Linked DNA regions of Homo sapiens: region 2 is linked to region 1. The links come from fine-mapping of genetic effects on gene expression. A gene starts in region 1. The other region holds a variant in brackets. All regions are shown on one strand. Distances are between the middles of the regions.

What was found.
Region 2: its variant is fine-mapped to the expression of PLEK2 in cerebellar hemisphere (GTEx, PIP above 0.99). The same link has a PIP of 0.9 or more in anterior cingulate cortex and cerebellum.

The regions. Positions count from the first base shown.
Region 1 is chr14:67,405,746-67,417,786 of GRCh38, forward strand. PLEK2 (pleckstrin 2) reads right to left here and starts at 6,420. Exons shown (of 9, transcript NM_016445.3): 1 at 6,273-6,420. The coding sequence starts at 6,314. It also overlaps a transcript of GPHN not described here.
Region 2 is chr14:67,469,252-67,480,120 of GRCh38, forward strand. It overlaps TMEM229B (transmembrane protein 229B), which reads right to left. Exons shown (of 3, transcript NM_001348543.2): 3 at 1,018-4,690. The coding sequence starts at 4,672. The coding sequence ends at 4,169. It also overlaps a transcript of GPHN not described here. Among named protein-coding and RNA genes, the nearest start is that of TMEM229B, 14 kb to the right of the region's middle. The variant G/C (reference allele first, on the strand shown) is at 4,698.

The DNA of each region.
Region 1 (12,041 bases):
CTGCCATATCCTAAGCAGCCCAATTGAGAGGTGAGGAGCTGAGGCCTCCAGCCAACAGCCATGTAGGTGAGCTCAGAATTGGACCCTACAGCCAGTCAAGCCTTCAGGTGACTGTCACTCTTGGCTGCAGCCTCACGAGAGACCCTGAGCCAGTCTTGCAGCTACGCTGTTACTGGATATCTGACCCTCAGAAACAGTGAGATGACAAATCTTGTTGTTTTAAGATGCTTGGCCAGGCACGGTGGCTCACACCTGTAATCCCAGCACTTTGGTAGGCTGAGGGCAGGTAGATCACTTAAAGTCAAGAGTTTGAGACCAGCCTGGCCAAAAAGGTTAAACCCCGTCTCTACTAAAAATTCAAAAATTAGCTGGGCGTGGTGGTGGGTGCCTGTAGTCCCAGCTACTCAGGAGGCTGAGACACAAGAATCACTTGAACCCAGGAGGAGGAGGTTGCAGTGAGCCAAGATGGCGCCACTGCACTCCAGCCTCGGTGAAAGAGCAAGATTCCATCTCAAAAAAAAAAAAAAAATGCTAACTTTTGGGATAATTTGTTATACAACAATCAATAATTAATATAGGGCATGATACAAACCCCAAGGAGGAGCTCAGGAGAGGCTGAGGTGGGGTTAGGTACATTCCCAGGAGTGATACTGGGGCTCAGTCTTCCTGGTTGTGTGGAGTTAGGCAGGTCAGGAAGTCAAGGAGGGGTGAGCATAGGACCCCTGCCACTTTGGGGAGACTCCCCGTGGTTCTATATGGCTTGGGCTCCATAGGGGAGGTGATGGGGACCAAGGTGGCAAGGGCTTCAGGTTCTGTGCCACAAAGTTTGATCTTCAAGGGGAGTCCTTGGAGGATTTTAAGCAGAAAGACAGCAAGCTTACGTTCTCATGTTAAACCTATCACTCCGAACACAGCAGCAGAACAGAATAGCCAAAGGAAGCAGGTGAGACTGGAGTGGGGAGCTCAGCTGGAGGCTGCTGGAATAGTCCATGAACCTGGCAGGAAAGCACCACCGGTTCTGCTCTACAGATAAACCACACCATGCACAGAGGGCATAGTGACTGGTCTAAAATCACCAGGCAAAGTGAGTCACAGGCCGATAACACAATGGTATGCTGAAGAAGAACCCAGGCCTCCCTCCACCTGGACACTTGTCCCTGGGCAGAGAGTAGCTTCTCTTTTAGGTTTCTTGTCTGTAATCCGCTGGCTGGAACCAGAGGCCAGCTGAAGCAGGGGGTGCTTGGAGTTCCCTGGATCCCTTTTGGAGAGAAGGACGAGGGGCCCATAAGCTGGAATGGCACCTCAGGGATGGGCTTATGAGACACAGAATGTTACAGCTGGAGAGACCCCAGGAAAAAGCCTCCTTTATTCCTTATTACTATTACTTTTTTTTTGAGACGGAGTCTTGCACTGTCGCCCGGGCTAGAGTGCTGTGGTGCGATCTCAGCTCACTGCAACCTCCACCTCTTGGATTCAAGCAATTCTCTTGCCTCAGCCTCCCGAGTAGCTGGGATTAGAGGCACCCATCACCACACCTGGCTAATTTTTTGTATTTTTAGTAGAGATGGGGTTTCACTATGTTGTCTAGGCTGGTCTCGAACTCCTGACCTCGTGATCTGCCCACCTCGGCCTCCTAAAATGCTGGGATTACAGGCATGAGCCACCACGCCCAGCCCCTAACCTTATTTTTTTTTAATTAAAAAAAATGTTTTTGAGGCAGGGTCTCATTTGGTTGCCGAGGCTGGAGTGCAGTGGCATGATCATAGCTCACTGCAGCCTCAAACCCCTGGGCTCAAGCGATTCTCCCATCTCAGCCTCCCAAGCAGCTGGGACTACAAGCGAGTACCACCATGACTGGCTAATTATTTTATTTTTTGTAGAGATGAGTTCTCATTTTGTTGCCTAGGCTGCTCTCGAACTCCTGGCCTCAAGCAATCCTCCCACTTTGGCCTCCCACATTGTTGGAATTTACAGGTGTGAGCCACCACACCCGGCAGACCCCTAACTTTAAAGATAAGGAAACAGAGGCACAGAAAGGTCTTGCCCAAGGCTCTATAACCCTGAGAAAAGCAGAGATGCCAGCTGGGCCCAGTGGTGTGTACTTGTAGTCCCAGCTACTTGGGAGGCTGAGCCAGGAAGTTCGCTTGAGCTCAAGAGCTCAACATTGCAATGCACTATGATCACACCTGTGAACAGTCCCTGTGCTCCAGCCTGGGTAACATACTGAGACATTGTCTCTTGAAAATAAAATAAAATAGAGGGCCGGGCATGGTGGCTTACACCTGTAATCCCAGCACTTTGGGAGGCCAGGTGGGTGGATCACCTGAGGTTGGGAGTTCAAGACCAGCCTGACCAACACGGAGAAACCACGTCTCTACTAAAAATACAAAATTAACCGGGCGTGGTGGTGCATGCCTGTAATCTCAGCTACTCAGGAGGCTGAGGCATGAGAATCACTTGAACCTGGGAGGCAGAGGTTGCAGTGAGCCGAGATTGCACCATTGCACTCCAGCCTGGGCAACAAGAGCAAAATTCGGTCTCAAAATAAATAAATAAAATAAAATAAAATAAAATAAAATAAAATAAAATAAAATAAAATAAAATAAAATAAAAAAAGAAAAAACAAAGATGGGATGATACTTGCTATGGGTTGAATTGTATTTCCCCAAAAAAGATACACTGAAGTCCTAACCTCTGGACCTGTAAGTGTGATGTTATTTGAAAATAGGGTCTTTGCAGATGTAATCAAGTTAAAATGAAGTCACCCTAGACTAGAATGGGCACTAATCCAATTGACTGGTGTCCTTATAGGAAGAGGAAAATTTGGACACTAAGAGACACATAGGGAGAGGATGGTCACGTGACAACAGAGACAGTGGTTGCACTGAAGTATTTAGAAGCCAGGGAATGCCAAGGGTTGCCTGCAAACACCAGAAGCTAGGAAGGATCCTCCTCTACAAGTTTCAGAGGCAGCACGGCCCTGGCAACACCTTGATTTTGCACCTCTAGCCTCCAGAACTCCTTCTGCTCTTTTTCTTCTACGCATATTTTTTCTTTACTCATACATTTTATCACTTTACTCTTCGGATTTTAATACTATAAACATATTCAACATCTGCATAACCATAATTTAATTAGTCATTTGGTGGGGACAGACAGGTGGTTTTCAGTTTTTTCGCCACATAAATGATCCTTTATTGGCCAGGCGCCTATAATCCCAGCACTTAGAGAGGCCAAGGTGGGAGGATCGCTTGAGCCCAGGAGTTCAAGACCAGCCTGGGCAACATGGTGAGACATTGTCGCTATAAAAAAAAAAAAAGAAATAAAAAAAAAGCAAAAAACAAAACATTAGCTGGGTGTGGTAACATGTACCTGTAGTCCCAGCTACTAGGGAGGCTGAGGCAGGAGGATTGCTTGAGCCTGGGAGGTCAAGGCTGCAGTGAGCCTTGCTGATGCCACTGTACTCCAGCCTGGGCAACAGAGTGAGACCCTCTCTAAACAAAATAAATAAGTAACAGGGGGGTGTGGTGACTCACACCTCTAATCTCAGCACTCTGGGAGGCCAAGGCCAGGGGATCACTTGAGCCAGGAGTTTGAGACCAGCCTGGGCAACAGAGTGAGACCTCATCTCTACAAAAATACAAAATAAAATAAAAATAACTCTTTGTTATAAAGCTTTTACAGAGCTTTACAAAAAAGGATAGAGCCCTGCACATAAAATCTCTAGGCCAGAGCATGTTCACATTGCAATGTTATTCACAATATGAGCCCAGCAGGAACGCCCGGCAGTGCTTCTGTCTCTTCTCCCAGGAAAAGCACTCCTGCTCACGGCTCATCCCCCACTTCCCTCTCCCCACTCCCCTGACAGCCAGGCCCAGTGAGCTCCTTGCATTTTGCCTGGAACTCTGCTTCTTTCTCGTCTGGGTGGGATTAAGAGCCAACTCTATCATGTCCCTGCCTGTCTCTGGCTTCGCTTTCACCGGTGATGACTGCTCTGCACTCCGGCTTCCAACGCAGGCCCTGCCCCACCTCTGAGCTCTTAACTCTCCTAAGACTATGGAATCCCCCTGCCACAGCCTGCAACTTCTCCAGTGGACATAGGGAATGCTATTGCCATCTAAGAGTAGAGGGGATATGGAGGGTTGAAAAAGTTGGGATTACTCAGCAGACTGGGACCACAACAGGGTTCTGGGGCCCTATCCTTCAGCCTGCAGGGAGGGGTGTGACTTCTGCTTGCCTCAGGGTCAGGCTCCATCCCAGTCTTTGGGTCTGGCTGGAATGAGCTCTAGGTATTTCAGCCAAGCCCCGTCTTTTCCAAGGGCTTACGGGGACCAGATCTGTTGACTCTCCTCATTTTCTGCACCCTGGATTCCCTAACCAGGCCACCCAGAAGAGAAGTCCCATCCTCCTGGTGATATCCTGGGAGCTCTGTGGCTCTGCCCTTAGCCCTCCTCTGACTCTCAGCATGGTGGGGGTGATAGGGAATGATGGAAGGTAACCCCCAGGAACAGGAGAAGGCCTCCAAAACTCCCAAAGCTCTATCAGAAGGATCTGTCTCCATGTTAACTTCATCCCTCCACAGGCTCTACCAGGGCCCAGCTATATCAACAGTGCCAACAAAAAGCCCCGTGCCCAGCTCTCACTCTCCCTCCCACCTCCCAAGCCGCAGTTAAATGTGAGATTAGGAGCTCCCCATGTGTAGTCTGAGGTGCAGCCACCTCCACATGCTGCGAGAAACCGGCCTATCAGTTCAGCCACAGTGGCAAGTGGGCGTGGCGCTTTGTACTGCTCTATCCAGTCTGACCCTTGATCTGGCATCAGCTTCTACCCTCCTTGCTTACTGTTTACAGCAAACAGCCACCGCTCTCCTGTACCAAATAACGTGCAACATCATGTGGACACATTTTGTGGGGAAAATGAAAGTGATGTGAGACTTTAGGGCTGATCCAGCCACCCCGGGAGGCAATGAAAGGAAGGGCCCCTCATCCCTCTTCATTCCCCTCCCAAAGCTGAAAACTCAGTAGAAGAACCAGAAAGCTCAGCCCTGGATTTATATGTCTCTTTGCTATGCCATCATAGCAGTATAAATGGTTAGTGTTAATGTCATTGTTCAAATTACGCTCTGTGTGGTGGCTCACGCCTGTTATCCCAGCACCTTGGGAGGCTAAGGTGGGCAGATGACTTAAACCCGGGAGTTCAAGACCTGCCTGGGAAACATGGCGAAACCCTGTCTCCACAAAAAAATACAAAAATTAGCTGGGCATAGTAGTGGATACCTGTAGTCCCAGCTACTAGGGAAGCTGAGGTGAGAGGACCACCTGAGCCTGGGAAGTCGAGGCTGTGGTGAGCCAGGATTGTGCCACTGCACTCCAGCCTGGGTGACCCTGTCTCAAAAAAAAAAAAAAAAAAAAAAGGTCAAATCAGGAAAAAATTTTGAAATAACAAACTTCCTTTTGCAGCTGCTCTTTTGTTCATCTTCTACCATAATCCCAGGCACTGAGTTTTTGTTTGCACTCGTTTGCCCTGGGCCACCTGGGGTGGTGGGGAAGGACTGAGGAGGGGAGGTCAGAACATGCAGTTCCTGTCCCAGCTATTACTGGCTCTGGAGCTCTGGGCAAGCTACTTCATCTTTCTGGTCCTCAGTTTCCCCGTCTGTAATAGAGTGATGTCAGTACCCACCGTGTATGGCACTGGGGAGGCAGTAAAGGTTTGGGTCAACCTGAGTGGGTCTGATCCCGATCCTGGCTCCACCACCCACTGCCTTCACCGCCCCGAGCAAGTTCCCTAACTCCTCTGGGCTTCGTTTTCCCCCTTGATGAAAGCAGGGCTGCTGGGAGGATGACATGAGACAATATCCAGGGCTGGCCAACAGTAAGTGCTTAAGACACATAGTAGCATTCCTCCTTCACAGGTTGTAAATTACAGAGCACGCCTATATTATCTTAGTAAATATTATTTAAATATCATACCATTCATAATATTTTAACAAGTTTTAATTAAGACACACGCTTCAGTACCCCTGCCCCGACTCCATACTGCGCTAACCAAGTGGGATTCTCCTCCTTGCCTGTGCGCTGAGCCACCGCTTACCCCGCGTCCCCTCGGACATGCAGCTCTGCCCATCAGGGCCACAGGCGGCCCGGTCCCACCATGGGGGTTGGGGATGGGAACCAGAGCATGCCCGTTCCGGGGCGCGCGTCTGGCCCCGCTCTAGGGAGCCGCGTCGGCGGGGCCCCACCCGGGCAATGTCCCGAAGCTCGACGCGCACTCACCCTCTTGACCAGGAAGCCCTCCTTGAGCACGCCGTCCTCCATGTCGCCGCCCGCACGCCAGGGCCACCCCAGGTGCGCCTTCCCCGCGCCTCGCGCTCCTCGGCACCCGCGCAGCCCGCGCAGTCCGCGCCCACGGCGCCCAGGAAGCAGCTCCGACGCGGCAGGGCGACGCCTCCCTGGCGCGTGTCCAGAGCCTGAGGCCCCGGGGCAGGAAGTCAGACCAAGTCGGGATTTCTGACGTGACGTTTCCACCCAAAGGTGCTCCAGGGTCGGTGGTTGGTCCTCCAGGTACAGAGCGGCCAACCCCGCCCCATCCAGGTGCGCCCCGCGCCCCTCACTGTTCCAGTCTCTCTGCTCAGCGTCCTTCGCCAGGTGCTTCCCGGGCACTTAGCGCATTGCCCTCGAGGAACGCTTATCGAATTGAACATAACCGACAGGACTCCAGGATTTGGAGCCATTCCTGAGCTCATTGCAAGTAGGAGATGGGACAGTGGGTGAGCCGAAACTGGTATGGGAATTTTATCCTGGCCTCTGATGGGGGCAGAGAAGACCTCTCAGTAACAGGAAGGTCACAGTTTTAAGGCGGCAGGCACAGTTTGCAGGGCCCCCTGTCCGCAGGATATACCCCGCTCCCTCAAAAAAGATGAAGCCGAAAATTCCATCATTAAGGACAAAATTTAAGGGGGCACCAAGGAGTCCAGTAACCTAGACAAATTATATATAGAGAGAGATGATTGGTTTTTTGGGGTTTTTTGTTTGTTTTTTGAGACAGGGTCTTTCTCTGTCACCCAGGCTGGAGTGCAGTGGTGTGATCATAGCTCACTGCAGCCTTAAACTCTGGGCTTAAGATCCTCCTGCCTCAGCTCCCCAAGTAGCTAGGACTACAGGAGTGCACCACCATGCCTGGCTGGTTTATTTTTATTTTTCGTAGAGATAGGGTGTTGCTATGTTGCCCAGGCTGGTCTTGATTCCTGGCCTCAAGCAATCCTCCGGCCTGGGCTTCCCAAAGTGCTGGGATTACAGGCAAGAGCCACCGTGTAAGACCTAGAAAAATAATATTTTAATGCATTTTTTAAAATCAAAATTAATGTCAAAAAATCCACGATGAACAAAATGCTAACATTTTAAATAGATAGGATCAACAACAATGTTCTATCAGGCCATATTGGAGCCTGGAACAGAAGGAAACTCAGTCAAATAGTACTGATTCTGTCTAACAATCCTTAGAACACAGTCACACATTTTTTTAAAATTTATTTTTATTTATAGAGACAGGGTCTCACTATATTGTCCAGACTGGTCTCGAACTCCTGGGCTCAAGCAGTCCTCCTGCCTCAGCCTCCCAAAGTGCTGGGATTGTGGGCATGAGTCATGGGGCCGGTCCATATTATTTGTGCTCCAGTTTGAAGGGCCCTGTCAGGACTCTTCACCAGGCATGGGAAAGGCCCTCAGATGCCTGTAAGGGAAGAGAAGGCTCTAGAGAGGAAGAAGGTGAACCAGCTTGTGGAAGGCGGGGGGTGCCTTTCAGAACCAGACTGAAGCCAGCTCCCAGGCCAGTCCCTGCCCTGGAGCTCTTGACACAGTGTTGCTTCTACATGTCTGTAGTAGACATATTACATCCCCCCAACCCCACTCCCACCTGCCAGCCCCAAGGAAAACTCGCAGGGTCTGGGTCACTGCGTGCCAGCCCAATGGCCCACTCTAGCCTTCTGCACTAACTGGCCTTCAGACTTCCCAGGAAGCCCCAAAGCAGTGGGGCTTCCATTCCAATTCAGAATGAACATCAGCTGGTCACCTTCTGAAGCCAGGCCTGTAGTAGTAGGTGCTAGGTTTTATCTAAAGTACAACAACCCCATGAGGTGTTTATTATGTCATTTTCCAGTCAAGGAAACTGAATCCAAGTAGTTAAATAACTTGCCCAAGGTTATGCAGCTCCAGGGCATTGCAAATACTCTTGCCTCCTAAGGAATTGTCCCAGCTCTGAAACCTAGCTGGGCTGAAAGCCAGGACTTGAGAGGTTGAGCTGGGAAGTTCTCATCCTCTTCGGCTCTAACTGTGGTCTATCCATCTCCTTCCTCAAAGAGGCTGTCTTGGCCCCACCCAGACACAATCTTCTGAGGCTTAGAAGAAGTGGCATTTTCTTTGGCAGGAGGGGTTCTTGAATGAATTCACAGAAATGGGAATGGGAAAGAGATGGATACCTTCTCCTGGCAGGGCTCCTGCCAGGAAGAAGTTAAGGCACACCTAGAACCTGCTTCCTGTCCTAGGAAACCCCTGGTCCAGCCCACCCTGCCTGACTCACTGGATCTGGGGCATGAGTCATACCCCTTCCTTCCCCAGGCTGTGGTGGCTGAGCCACCAGCCCACCAGGGAACCATGATGACATAAGCCCAACTCACCCATAGGGAAGAGGATGGAGACAGAAGGAAGCAGACAGCAGTAAACAGCTGGGGGAGGGGGCAGGGACGAGCAAGAAGCTTTCAGAGAGACACCCCTCCTCTCCCTCTCAGGCCTGGAGGCTGATGTGGAAGGGTCCCTGGCCCTCTCAGCTCCTCCCCTTTTTGTCCCGAAGGGACAGGGACAGATAATGCCTAGGGTGCTGAGTTGCAGAAAACTATTAGGTCTGTGTTTAAGTATAGGTGACTCACAGCCTGATGTGAGAATCTATCATTAGAGATTCATTCCTTTAGCTTCAGATAAGAATCCCCTGTTTAAGATACATAGAGTGGAAAAGGATAAATCATGGAAACTTATTCACAATAAATGCCTGGACTTCTTGAGTTTACCGGAATCACAGAATCAGAATCTAATCCCTAAAGATCACCAAATCCGGATGCTTCATTTTATAAATGAGGACCCTCAAAGCCCAGGGAAATAAAATGACTTGTCCAAGGTCTTGCAGCCAGTTAGTGGTAAAACCAGGGCCAGAATACAGGCTAACAGAGCTCAAGGCTGGCTCCTGGCAAATACAGGGCAATGCCCCCAGCAGCGACCTGCATCAGAGCATCCTGCAGTGAGAGGGGGGCTGCAGGCCTGGAAGGGCTCTGTCTGCAGAACTGGAAAAGACTTCAAAAAATCCTTCTACATTTTTTTCTGAACATAAAAATACATTTGTGCATATTATAGAATATTTAGAAAATACCAAAAGGGATAAAACCACCCTGAATCTATCACTCAGACAGATGATCAGTATGTTTATATGCACATACTTTTAAATTAAATTTTATTTAAAATTTTTGAACCCTGCCTTTTTTTTTAACTTATAATAGCTAATAAGTATCTTACCAGGTCATTAAAAGTAATTCAAAAACATAATTTAAATAACTGCATAAAATTTCATGGTGACTGAATTTAATCATTCCCATGTAGGTTGAATTTCCTTTTTCACTGTGTAAATAGTATTATGATAAATATCTCTGTACATACACATTTTGCCAGATCTCTGATTATTTCAGATAAACATCTAAGGTATAATTTTAGGTTAAAGGGTGTAAATTTTTAAAATTCTTGAAGCATATCACAAAACTGCTTTCTAGAAATGTATCACATGCTATCCTCACCAGCAGCGTATGACAATGCCAGTCTCACTGCGTCTACGCCAGCATTCAGTATAGTATTTTCAGGAATATACATCATTCTATTATAAAGATACATGCATGTGTATGTTCATTGCAGCACTATTCACAATAGCAAAGACATGGAATCAACCCAAATGCCCATCAATGTTAGACTGGATAAAGAAAATGTGGTACGTATACACCATGGAATACTATGCAGCCAAAAACAGGAATAAGATCATGTCCGTTGCAGGGACTTGGATGAAGCTGGAAGCCATTATCCTCAGCAAACTAACACAGGAACAGAAAACCAAACATCGCATGGTCTCACTTGTATGTGGGAGCTGGACATTGAGATCACATGGACACAGGGAGGGGAATAACACACACTGGGGCCTGTCAGGGGATGTGGCGGGAGGGAGAGCATCAGGAAAAATAGCTAGTGCATGTTGGGCTTAATACCTAGGTGATGGGTTGATAGGTGCAGCAAACCACCATGGCACACATTTACCTGTGTAACAAACCTGCACATCCCGCACATGTACCTTGAAACTTAAGATAATTAAACAAGAAGCTTTGCTGATTTTAAAAATGTATTTGCTTATTTATTTTTTATCAGCCCACATCATGCTTTGAGTAGAAAGCTTTGCTGATTTTCTCAGAACCAGCAGGGACAACCCCCACTTGCGTAAGCTGTGTGTTATCTCAGTCAAGGCTGAGCCCTGCTACCTGGGGGACGGCCAGCTAGAGGGACGTCCCCTGGAAGAGACTCAGAACTGAGAAGTTGCTGGAAAACTGCTAGAGAACTGGGCGGTGAAGTCCCAGAGTAGCGCATCATTTGTAGGAAAAGGAGGGCGTGTGGGGTCCCGGGCAGCCAGGAGAGCACCCTGAAGGCACTGAAAAGATTGGGCAGAGGCAAAAAGCCAGAGGAGACAGGAGCTAGAAGTACAGGCAGGAAAAGACTAAAGAGAAATTTTGCCTAATTCGTGGCTATGCCCAAGGCCATCCAGCTAGTTGCTCTGCTACAACAGAAATGTATATTCATTCATCTGTCAATTCATTCATTCATTCACTGAAGCAGGGAGACAGATACTGAGAATGTCCGTGTACAAAGCACGGACAGTGCCATGGGTGACACACAGACCTGCCCTGGGGCCTCATATGTCAGTGTAAACAAGGTATCTTTTCCATTAACAGCAGCATTGTTGATTAACAGCATCTTTTGTACTAATTCCGGGGACACTGCAGTTCACAGGGCAGATGCTCCACCATAAAGGTGAGGCTTCTCACACTATCTGTGGTGAAGACTGGACTTCTGAGCTGTGAACATTGAGTGGTCCTACTGTGCATGACCAGAAAACAGCCTCTGCCACAAGTGACTTATTGGAGACTTCTACGTCACCCAAACTGGTCTATATTCTGTTCAGTGAATCAAGACCACGGACTGTGTGCTTGAATGTTGTGGTAATGCCCAGCTGCTATAAAAGTTTCCAAGCACTGACTCTCAGTTCCCATTCTTTCATCATAGAGCAGTACCAGATCACTCTTGAACAGCACTGCTCTTGAGTATGGGTTCTGGAATCTATAGCATGGGTTCAAACCCTTCCTATGCCACCCATGTTACTGATGGCAAGTTACTTATCCTCTCTGATCCTCAAGTTCCTCATCTCTAATATGGGCTAATAGCATACAAAGAGTTGTTTGGGGAAAATAAATGAGATTATGACAATAAATTATGTAGTGCGGTGCCTGGGACACAGTAAACACACAATAGGTTTTTTCATTTCCACTCGATCCCACGTTGTGAGGTTGGTAGAAGGAGTGAGCATTGGTAATCAACACCTCCAGAGTTATGGATATAATATTTTTATTTTTGAGACAGGTTCTTACTCTGTTGCCCAGGCTGGAGTGCAATGGTGCCATCATAGCTCACTGCAGCCTCCACCTCCCAGGTATAAGCAATCCCCCTACCTCAGCCTCCTGAGTAGCTGAGACTATATGCATGCACCAACACACTTGGTTAATTAAAAAAAATTTTTTTTTGTAGAGATGGCCTATGTTGCTCAGGCTGGTCTTGAACTCATGGGCTCAAGTGAGCCTCCTGCCTTGGCCTCCCAAAGTGTTGGGGTTATAGGCATGAGCCACATTTTTGTTTTGTTTGGATTTTTTGTTGCTGCTTTGTTTTTTGAGATGGGGTTTCACTCTGTTGCCC
Region 2 (10,869 bases), 63 kb after region 1:
GACAGGGGGCCCATGCCATTTGCGTTTAGCTGAAATTACTGAGCAACTTCAAGACAGGGTCTCACTGTCACCCAGAATACAGTGGTGCAATCATAGCTCACTGCAACCTCCAAATCCTGGGCTCACGTGATCCTCCTGATTCAGGCTCCTGAGTATCTGGAATTATAAGTGTGTGCCACCATGCCTGGCTTTTTTTTTTTTTTTTTTTTTTTTTGTAGAGATGGTGGTCTCTGTATGTTGCCCAGGCTGGTCTCAAACTCCTGGGCTCAAGTAATCCTCCTGCTTCAGCCTCTCAAAGTGCTGGGTTTACAGGTGTGAGCCACCATGCCCAGCCTGACTGAGCAACTTCTGAACCCTCCATCCTCTTCCTGGAAGGAGGAAAGTGGGCAGCGGCCTGGTGGTGGTGGTGGTGGTGGTGGTGGGAGGACAGGGAAGCTCAATGGAGCAGAGGTACATAAAGGGGGAGAGATTACTCCCTCCAAATGCACTTCTCCAACAAAACAGGGCTGCCAGGGAGGAGTGCAGAGCTGTTTTTTCGAAGCATGACTTTCAGTGTAACATCACTTTCAAAGTAAAGGGCTCTGGCCTTCCATGTCTTTGGGGGTACCCTCAGCCACCCTGCTTGGTCCCTCCTGCCTCATGAGATGTCTCAGGTCATGGCTGGTGTTTCCAGGAGGAGCTCGTCTCATGGGCAACTGCAGCCAACCTGCAGTCAACCTGGATACTGCCTGAGATCCCCCTCTGCCTGGGAGCGTGGCACCAAAGTAAGGCCTGGATCACATTATGCCACCTGAGAATTGGGGTCAGGGTGTGAATTCAGGTTACCAGAGAGTGTCAGAGTAGAGACAGCAAGAAGGATTGGCAGGGAGTGTCACTTGCCCCCTCCACAGGGCAGCCCCGCCCAGCAGCCCTCTTAGTTCAGGAGGGCATGATGCCAGGGTGCAAAGGGCCTGGCCTCCAGGAGCCCCTGAGAAAGTGGCTCCAAAAGAGGAAAAACAGATGGGCCAGAGCCAGTCCTGGAACACAAACACCAGTATATTTTATGTGCACAAATGTGAAAAGGAAGAGACAGAGGGACCAACGGAGACACAGAGCAGGCAATGGGCGCACAAACCGGTCGTGTGTCCTTCTCAAGAGCTGCCCAACTGGGAGACAGTCCCACCCACCTCAAAGGCCCTTTAGCAGAGCTGGGGCCTGCATCTCCTCCAGGTCTGGGTGGCCTCAGGGTGGAAGGCACTCTCCCTGCCATGGCTCCCCTAAGGGCTGGGCCTCTAACCTGTCTGCATCCCAGGGTGATGCCTACACAGCCCAGGGCTTCATAAATGCAGGTTCTCATGAACTGACCCACTCAGCAGCTGCCTCCCCAGGAGACCCACGCAGAGTGAGGGACCAGGACAAAAGGGCTTCATGGGGACTCCCTAGGTATTATTGCTGTGAATAAGCATAGGCCATTGTGACTCACTGGCATTGAAGAGGGGACAGGGCACATGGGATGCCTAGCAGATGTCCGAAGCAGTTCAACCATGCAGGGCAACACATTGCAATCTGTAACTCAGAGATGCTGCCATGTCTAGTGGAGAGAGGCCCAGGACACCAGAGGTTCATGAACAGCCAGCAAACACTCCCCACCAGCACCCTTAATGCTTGGCAGGGCTGGGATTATTCCAAACTTTGAGTCCCTGGCCACTAAGGGATTGGGGCCCTGATACCCAAAAAAGCAAGAATTGAAGTCTGGGCTATCCCTGGTGAGATCTGAACCTGTAGATCCCGTGGTCAGGCCATGGGTTGTTGCCTTCCTTTGCTGGAGGTTTGATGCCTTATGAGGGGCAACTGGAGAAATGGGACACCTAGATGGAGCAGAAACACAATGCTGGATGTTGCCAGGCACACAGGCATACCCCCAGGACCTCCTGCACTTGGGAAAGTATAGGACCCAGAGAGGAAATGGTGCCAGGGAATGCCCACAAGGCAACTTCTGGAGCAGCAAGACCTGGTGGGCCAATCAAGGATTTGCTCTGGCTGAGAATTATGGAGGCATCAACAAGCTGGCCACTGGACTGAGTTGTGGAATGCAAGTGTGAAGGTGGGTAGTGTGGTCTAGGGGCCCACATGGAAGGCCTGAAGGGGTGCTGGGAGACTAAGACAACATGGAGTTGGAGAGAGAACCAAGGAAACAATTGCCCAGAGAGAACGGGGAAGCCAGACAATATTCTCCTCCTGGAATTTTCTCCACCTATAGATGGAAAACAATCTACTCCCACCGGAAGCCTGATTCTCTGTAACCCCCAAAGCCCTGGAATTGGGGCCACAATAAAATCAAAAGGAGGGCTGGCCACTGCAGAAAGTAGTTCATCCCTGGATTTGAGGAGCCTGCCCAGGAAATAGGCTAGGAAATACCCTTCGTTCTGCTCTGGACGGGGCTAACTGCAGAAAATCCTGCCAAAGGCAGAGTCTGCAAGCTTTTCTCCAGACCTAGGACACAACTGTGGCCCACCCCACCACACCCTGCACCCCACCACACCCTGCACAGTATGGGCAGGGCAGCCAGCAGGGAAGAGGACATTCTCTCCACAGGTGATACCGTCACTTTGTAATGATCCATAAAAAGGGGAAGGCTAATTTCTACCTAAGAGTCCTAGTGTGGTCAAGAAGAGACCATGTACCATGGGGTGGGCCACTTTCTAACGGACCCTTCCCCTTGAGGAGTGAGAGTCAGAGCCGGAAGTAGGCTGGAGTGAGTATTTCACCTGTCCACTGCCAGCAATGGACCTGTCACAGGACAAAGTGGGGCAGGGGAACCAAGGTGCCAATGCCCATGAGTGTGGCAGGGTTAATACTGTTTAAGGAGTGAGCTCAAAGGGTCAGCCTTGCTGGGAGGAGTTTGGGGAGAGGGGCAGCCCTGAGGTTCTGCTACCAGGGCTGAGGCTCTGGCAGAACCAGAACTGATACCCTCCCACAAAGGAGGCTCCAAGGAGCCTTCCACAGCTGCAAGGTCCTCCTCTCTTTCTTCCTCTCATTCTCCATCAGTCTCCAATGCTGGATACCTGGCTTCTCCATCCCATAGAAAGCTAGACTGCTCAGTTTTGGCTTGAAAATAAACCAGGCAGGGAATAGATGACCTAGAACTCTGGCTTTTCCCCACCAAACTGACTTGCCTCTAGGTCCCCACTGTGGATCCACAGGGCCTAACCCAGCCTGCCTGTGCATTGGAGGGCATCATTTGTTCTCAGCTGAGCCACTGAGAAGGGAGCACTGCCACAGCCCACTAGACCGGGGGTAGGGAGGTGTAACTCAGGAACTCCCCAGGCATCAGGCCAGCCGGAACAGTGGAGGGAAGGGCTGCAAGGGGGTGAGGGTTGGGGGTGTCTCAGGGCTTCATCTCCGGCAGCTCCTGTGCTGGCTAGGGAGCTGGGGTGGGGCAGGTGTGGCGACCGACGTGGATAAAGAGCCGCTAGTGGTAAAGGCTTTGAAAACAAGACAGAAAAGGGGGAAACGCCACCGAACACACGGGGATTGAAACCTCCAAAAGCCCAAGGTTGGTGGGAATCCAGCACCACGGGGGCCCCAGAAGGCCAAGGGAGCAGCGCAGGGCCCTGGGGGAGGGGAGAGGAGCCAAGGGAGGGTCTCCCAGCCCTTGCAGACCAGCGTTGCTGCCACGCAGCCTCCTGGCTGCCCAGTCTCTCCTCGGCTGCAGCTCAGCAGGCCCCTGGGGAGGTATTGGTTGCAAGCAAGCACCTGAATATTGCCTAATGGAACCAGCCAAAGCTCAACTAAATCCAGATCGGAGGGAGGGAGGTCAGGCCTTGCCTCCCACCTGCGGCCCCATTCTCATTGTCCCTTGGCCAGGACAGGGCCTGCTGCTTCCAAAGTCAACTACATAGTCCATCGCTGCTCAGCCACAGGCCTCCTGGTACCAACCCCTGAACTGGGCCGCGATCCATGGACCCTTCCCAATGTCCCTCTGCTGCCTCCACACCCCATCCCCCAACACCTGACCACGGCCCCCCAACACCGGCCCCCGCGGACGTTAGGGGGCTCTGTGTGCCCTATAGGGCTGAGGCTTGGCCGGAGCAGGGCTTTTGCTGCATGGATGGGGCAACCTCACCAGCTTGGTCTCTTTGTCCATGAGTTCCATGAGAGATCCCCAGGCCCCCCACCCGCTTCCTGCTCAGTCAGTCTTGACATGGCCGTTGGCCAGGGCTAGGGCGCCGCTGGGCTCCCCGGGCTCAGCGTCCTTGTCGAAGCGGAGGCGGAGGGTGTTGCGGATGATGAACTGCTCCATGATGAGGGCCCCGCAGAACCAGGGCACGGCGTACTCCAGGGTGATGAGGCCCATGAAGTCAAAGTCGAACTGGGAGTAGTCCCAGGGGCAGGCGTTGAACTGGCGCAGGATGAAGCCGGTGGTGAACTCCCACAGGTAGGTCCAGAGCGTGTAGATGAGGCAGCGCAGGAGCAGCGGGCAGCGGCCGCGCAGCCGCAGGTACATGCGCTCCACGATGAGGATGGAGGTGCCGTAGATGAAGAGGGCCCACACGCTCGTGACCCCAGGGAACTTCCAGTTCAAGTTCACCACGAACTCCCAGGCCGCTGTGAACATCACCTCGCAGAAGTAGCCGTGGATGGCATACAGGTACCAGCGGGACAGCGCCGTCAGGGGCTCGGCAGACGCCATGGCGCCGACTGGGGCTGGCTGCGGG[G/C]GGCGCAAGAGAGACAGGTGAGGGCCGGGCGCGGTGGCTCACGCCTATAATCCCTGCGCTTTGGGAGGCCGAGGCGGCGGATCACTTGAGGTCAGGAGTTCCAAACCAGCCTGGCCATCATGGTGAAACCCCGTCTCTACTAAAAATACAAAAATTAGCCTGGCGTGGTGGCCCGCTCCTGTAATCCCAGCTACTTGGGAAGCTGAGGCAGAAGAATCGCTTGAACCCGCAAGGCAGAGGTTGGAGTGAGCCAAGATTGCGCCACTGCACTCCAGCCTGGGAGACAGAGTGAGACTCTGTCTCCAAAAAAACAAAACAAAAAAAAAACAGAGCAAAGAACAGAATAACCCACCCACCCCACTGACTTCTCTGCAACTCTACCCAAATGCTACTTAGAGGGAGGTGTCTGTACTCCCTAGAGCTTTTTTGGATTATCTGTGGTCAGTTGAAGAGTCGGCTGGCCTGCTGCACCAATCAGCCCCATTTCTAGACTACTTGCTGATTTCTCAGCAGGCCTATCCACTGGGGACCCCATTTCTTCCTCCACTTCTTCTCAAACAGTTCCATGTCACTCATATTTCTGAGATGTAAGTGACTCATCACATTTGTCCTTGTGTGTGTGCATGCCATTTTTTAACCATGTGTAAGTGTACAATTCAGTGGTCTTAAGTACATTCACATTGTTGTGCAACTGTCACCACCAACCATCTCCAGAACTTTTTCATTGTCCCAAACAGAAACTTTGTATCCATTAAATACAAACTCCCATTCCCCATACCCTCAGCCCCTGGCAACCACTATTCTATTTTCTGTCTCTATGAATTTGACTACTCTGGGTGCCTCATATAAGTGGAATCATACAAACACTGTCCTTTTGTGACTGGCTTAGCATAACTGGCTTAGCTTTCACTTAGCCTAATGTCTTTAAGGTTCATCCATGTTGCAGCACATGTCAGAATTTCCTTCTTTTTTTTTTTTTTTTTTTGTGACGGAGTCTCGCTCTGTCGTCCAGGCTGGAGTGCAGTGGCGCAATCTTGGCTCACTGCAACCTCCGCCTCCTGGGTTCAAGCGATTCTCCTGTCTCAGACTCCTGAGTAGCTGGGACTACAGGCACACACCATCATGCCCGGCTAATTTTTGAATTTTAGTAGAGACGAGGTTTCACCATGTTGCCCAAGCTGGTCACAAGCCCCTGAGCTCAGGTGATCCGCCCGCCTTGGCCTCCCAAAGTGCTAGGATTACAGGCGTGAGCCACTGTGCCCAGCCAGAATTTCCTTCCTTTTAAAGGCGGAATCATATTCCATTGTATATATCACCATATTTTGTTTATCCATTCATCCATTGATGGACACCTGGGTTGCTTCTACCTTTTGGCTACTCAAAATAAGGCTGCTATGAACACGGGTGTACAAAGGTCTGTCTGAGTCCCTGCTCTCAACTCTTTCAAGTACATATGCAGAAGTGGAAATACTGGATCATATGGTAATTCTATGGTTAACTTTCTGAGGAACCACTGTGCTGTTTTCCACAGTGGCCACACCATTTTACATTCCCCATCAGCAATGTACAAGGGTTCCAATTTCTCCACATCCACCCCAAACACTTGTTATTTTCTGTTTTGTTTTTATAATGGCCATCCTAATGGGTGTGAGGTGGTTCTCTCATTGTGGTCACATTTGTCTTTGCTCCATTAAATGGGGTTTTGGTGTTTGGTTTCAGTGCTGAGGGGAAACCAATGGATTGACACAGGAAAGAGTCCTCCCCAGTCCTTCTGGCTCCTTTCCCCTCCCCTCTTTTAAACCCCACCAGTCTTCAACGCCCGGCTCCCATGCTGCTTCTCTCTACTTTCTCCTCACCCTCCACCAGCGACTGTCTGCACCACTTACCTGGCCCATTATCAGGTGCCACCCCAATGGCTTTTTGAGGTATGTGCTCTCATGATCCAACTAGCATGTGAACTCCTTGAGGATAGTGACTGTTGCACAGGCCAGTGCTTTGTGGCCTTGACGCAGGCCCGTCCTGGGCAGGCCCTCTCTAAATGACATGTCCTGTTCATGTGGAGGGAGGTGTGGGACTGCATCAAGAATGGGAAGGTAGGGCTTGAGAACATAAATCCCAGCTCTGCCAGCTGCTAATGGCTTCACATCTCTGTCGATCCCCTCTCCAAGGTGGGAGAAAAGACAGAGGTTAAGGAAATGGCATCTGTAGTATGCACACCTGTCTGGGAATTCCAGCCTCACATTTCAGCTGAAGCAGGCCTGGTCACATTAATACCTACCCAGCCTTGTGCATTGCTCTGTGGTCTTCCAAGCACTTCGTTCGCATTTTGTCATGGTTCTTACATAATTAAAATTCAGGCTGGGCGCAGTGGCTCACACCTGTAATCCCAGAACTGTGAGAGGCTGAGGCGGGTGGATCACCTGAGGTCAGGAGTTTGAGAACAACCTGGCCGACATGGTGAAACCCTGTCTCTACTAAAAATACAAAAATTAGCTGGGTGTGGTGGCATGCACCTGTAGTCTCAGCTACTTGGGAGGCTGAGGCAGAAAAATTGCTTGAACCCAGGAGGCGGAGGTTGCAGTGAGCCAAGATCATGCCACTGCACTCCAGCCTGGGCAACAGAGCAAGACTTCCTCTCCAAAAAATATATTTATAAATAAAATAAAAAAGATTCATGTGAAGGTCAGAAAATTTTACTCCCATTTTTTTGCAGTGAGACAGAGCTCAGAGAGGGGACATTATTTACCCCATATCCCAGGGCCAGTAAATGGAAGAGCTGAGATTAGAACCAATATCTCTTGCTTTCTACTGCAGAACTCATCCCCTGCACATGACTGCCCATCTCTTAGACATACGTACCAAATGTCTCTCCCCTGCTCAAAAATGCTCGATAGTGGCTGGGCACAGTGGCTCACGCCTGTAATCCCAGCACTTTGGGAGGCGGAGATGGGCAGATCACCTGAGGTCAGGAGTTCAAGACCAGCCTGACCAAAATGATGAAACCCTGTCTCTACTAAAAATACAAAAAAACAATGGATGGGTAGGTATTAATGTGACCAGGCCTGCTTCAGCTGAAATGTGGTGGCATGCGCCTATAATCCCAGCTACTTAGGAGGCTGAGACAGGAGAACCGCTTGAACCTGGGAGGTGGAGGTTGCAGTGAGTCGCGATCGCACCATTGCACTCCAGCCTGGACAACAAGAGCGAAACTCCATCTCAAAAAAAAAAAAAAAATGTTCGATATCTCCTTATTTCCTAATGAAACACAACAGCATCCTTGGCCTGCCATTCAAGATTCTTCATGACCTTGCCCCGATTGACATCTTCAGCCTTTTCCTCACAATCCAGCTCTTCCTGTCTTTCATCTCCATGCCTTTGCAGGTCCTATTCATTCTGTTAGGCGTGCCTTTCTCCTCTCACTTCCATGAGTATAAACCAGCTTGCAGGTTACCTTCAGAACAAAATCTCTTTCATTCCCCCAGGTCCCAAGGCTTCTCTTCCTCTTCTGAATTTCTACAGCACTTACTCTGTCTCACTCCCTTTGCTACAGGTTATTTTCAATATTATATTGAGAATTTCTGTCCCCGGCCAGACCTCTTTCCTGTGTGCTACACCTATAGCTCCTGCCCTTCCCTAGACAGCTCCCCCTAATGTCCCACAGGCATCCCAAACTCCTTTCCTAAATCAAACCCATGGGCAGGTGTGGTGGCTTATGCCTGTAATCCTAGCACTTTGGGAGGCAGAGGCAGAAGGATCGCTCGAGCCCAGAACTCTTGAATTCAAGACTAGCCTAGACAATGCAGTGAGACTCTGTCTCTAAAAAATAAATAAATAAAATCAAACCCATTATCTTTTCCCCAAAACCTGTTTCTCTCCTAAGACCCCCACCCCAATTAATGGCACCACCATGCACCCAGTTAGAACCAGCGGTCTCAAAGTCTGTCTGGCTTCCTCTGCCACATCCCCACCCTAACATGAGTTCCTGAGAGTGAGGGCCTTGCCTGCCTGGTTCAGCATAGTATTCCCAGTGCCTGGCACAAAGCCCAGCACATAGTAAGCATTCAAGAGAAGAATAAAGACATTTCTTAGTTAGCAATCGCCATATAACAAATCATCTCAAAAACCCTGGCCTAAAACAACTACCGTCTACTATTACAGCTCACATGTCTGTGGTTGGCAGACGGCTGGGGCAGCGTAGCTCCACTCCACCTGTCTCTCATCCTCCTCCGGGGCCCAGTGGACTTGCCTGGGCATATTCTTCTCATGGCAAGGGCAGAGGCACAAAGCTGAGCAAGGCTAGCTGTACAAGTGTGGTTCAAGACCCTGGCTAAGCCATGCCCACCATCATCCCACTGGCCAAGGGAAAGCCACCAAGTCAGCTACTAACTCCCACCCTTACCACCTCTTAAATATCTTTGGGATCCATCCCCTCCTCTTCATTACTCTTCTCATTGCTGCCACTGCTCTGGTTCACGCCCTCATCATGTCTCACCTGGATGACTCCAAAGGTCTCCCAGCTTTGCCTTCTTCCTTCTAATTCACTCATCACAGGATGAAAGAGTGTGTAGAAAAAACGCAACCTTTCTAAAATGCAAATCCGATGTTTCTCACCACTTGAAGCCCATGAGTGGATCTTCAACATCTACAGAGTAAATAAAGCTCAAACCCCTGGGGACGGCTGGCAAAGCCCTTCACAACTCGTCCCTGCCTCCAATCCTGTCCTCCAGATCTCTACCTTGCTGTTTTTGCTACCTGGGCCCCACCCAGGGCCGGTGAACCCTCCTTTAAGACCCAGCTCCTCCTCTGTGAGGACTTTCCTAAGCACCCTGACTCCAGAGTTGTCTTCCCACTTCTGCACCCTCCCTTCTCTGTGGTAATAGTGAGCACTCTGCTTCACTGGATTCATCTGAACGCCAGCACCAGCAGCCTCCTGAGGAATGCTTGTTTAAGATAGTGGTAAGAGAAAAAAGCAGGATTCAAAACTGAATATTCAACCTAACTCCGATTCTGCAAAGGCATGCATATGTGCACATATACAAAAAAATTAAACAACAATCATCTCTGGATGGTGATATCATATGTGCTTTTTTTCTTTATATTTTTCTGCATACTTTTTTTTCCTAACAAGCATGTATAACTTTTATAAAACTAAAATTTCATCTTAAAAATGCTTATGGAGGCTGGACGTGGTGGCTCACCCTGTAAACCCAGCACTTTGGGAGGCTGAGGTGGGTGGATCATGAGGTCAGGAGTTCAAGACCAGCCTGGCCAACATGGTGAAACCCTGTCTCTACTAAAAGTACAAAAATTAGCTGGGCGTGGTGGCGTGTGCCTGTAATCCCAGCTACTCGGGAGGCTGAGGCAGAAGAATTGCTTGAACCGGGACCCAGGAGGTGGAGGTAGCAGTGAGCGAGATCGTACCACTGCACTCCAGCCTGGGCTACAGAGCAAGACTCTGTCTCAAAAAAAAAAAAAAATGCTTGTGGAAGCTGGGTGCAGTAGCTCATGCCTGTAATCCCAGTACTTTGGGAGGCCGAGGTGGGTAGATCACCTGAGGTCAGGAGTTCGAGACCAGCCTGGCCAACATGGTGAAACCACATCCCTACTAAAAATACAAAAATTAGCCGGGCATGGTGGCATGCACCTGTAATCCCAGCTACTCGGGAGGCTGAGGCAGGAGAATCGCTTGAACCTGGGAGGCGGAGGTTGCCGTGAGCCGAGATAGCGCCACTGCACTCTAGCCTAGGTGACAGAGTGAGACTCCGTCTCAAAAAAGGAAAAAAAAATGCTTGTGGAATGAATATGTATTCACCGTATTCATACCTCGTGTATAGAAGGTGTTCAATGAATTTGCTAAGCAAATGAACCCAAAGAAACCTGAAGTCATGTAAAATTATTGCAGGCTCTTCCCTCCTGTGTCATCCAACAACAAACCATGCCTCACAGGTCTCAATATGGCCAGCTGGTTAAGTTCAGGGACCCCAGATGATCCTAACTGCCTGGGTTGGAATCCTGGCTGATGCTTTCCACCTGTGAGACCTAATGGACGCTGCCCAACCACCCTGTGCCTCAGGGTCCTTGTAGGTAAAGTGAGGATAACGGAAGTAATGACCACAGAAGGCTGTTGTGAGGACGAATGAACTCGTACATATACACTACTTAAAATACAGCT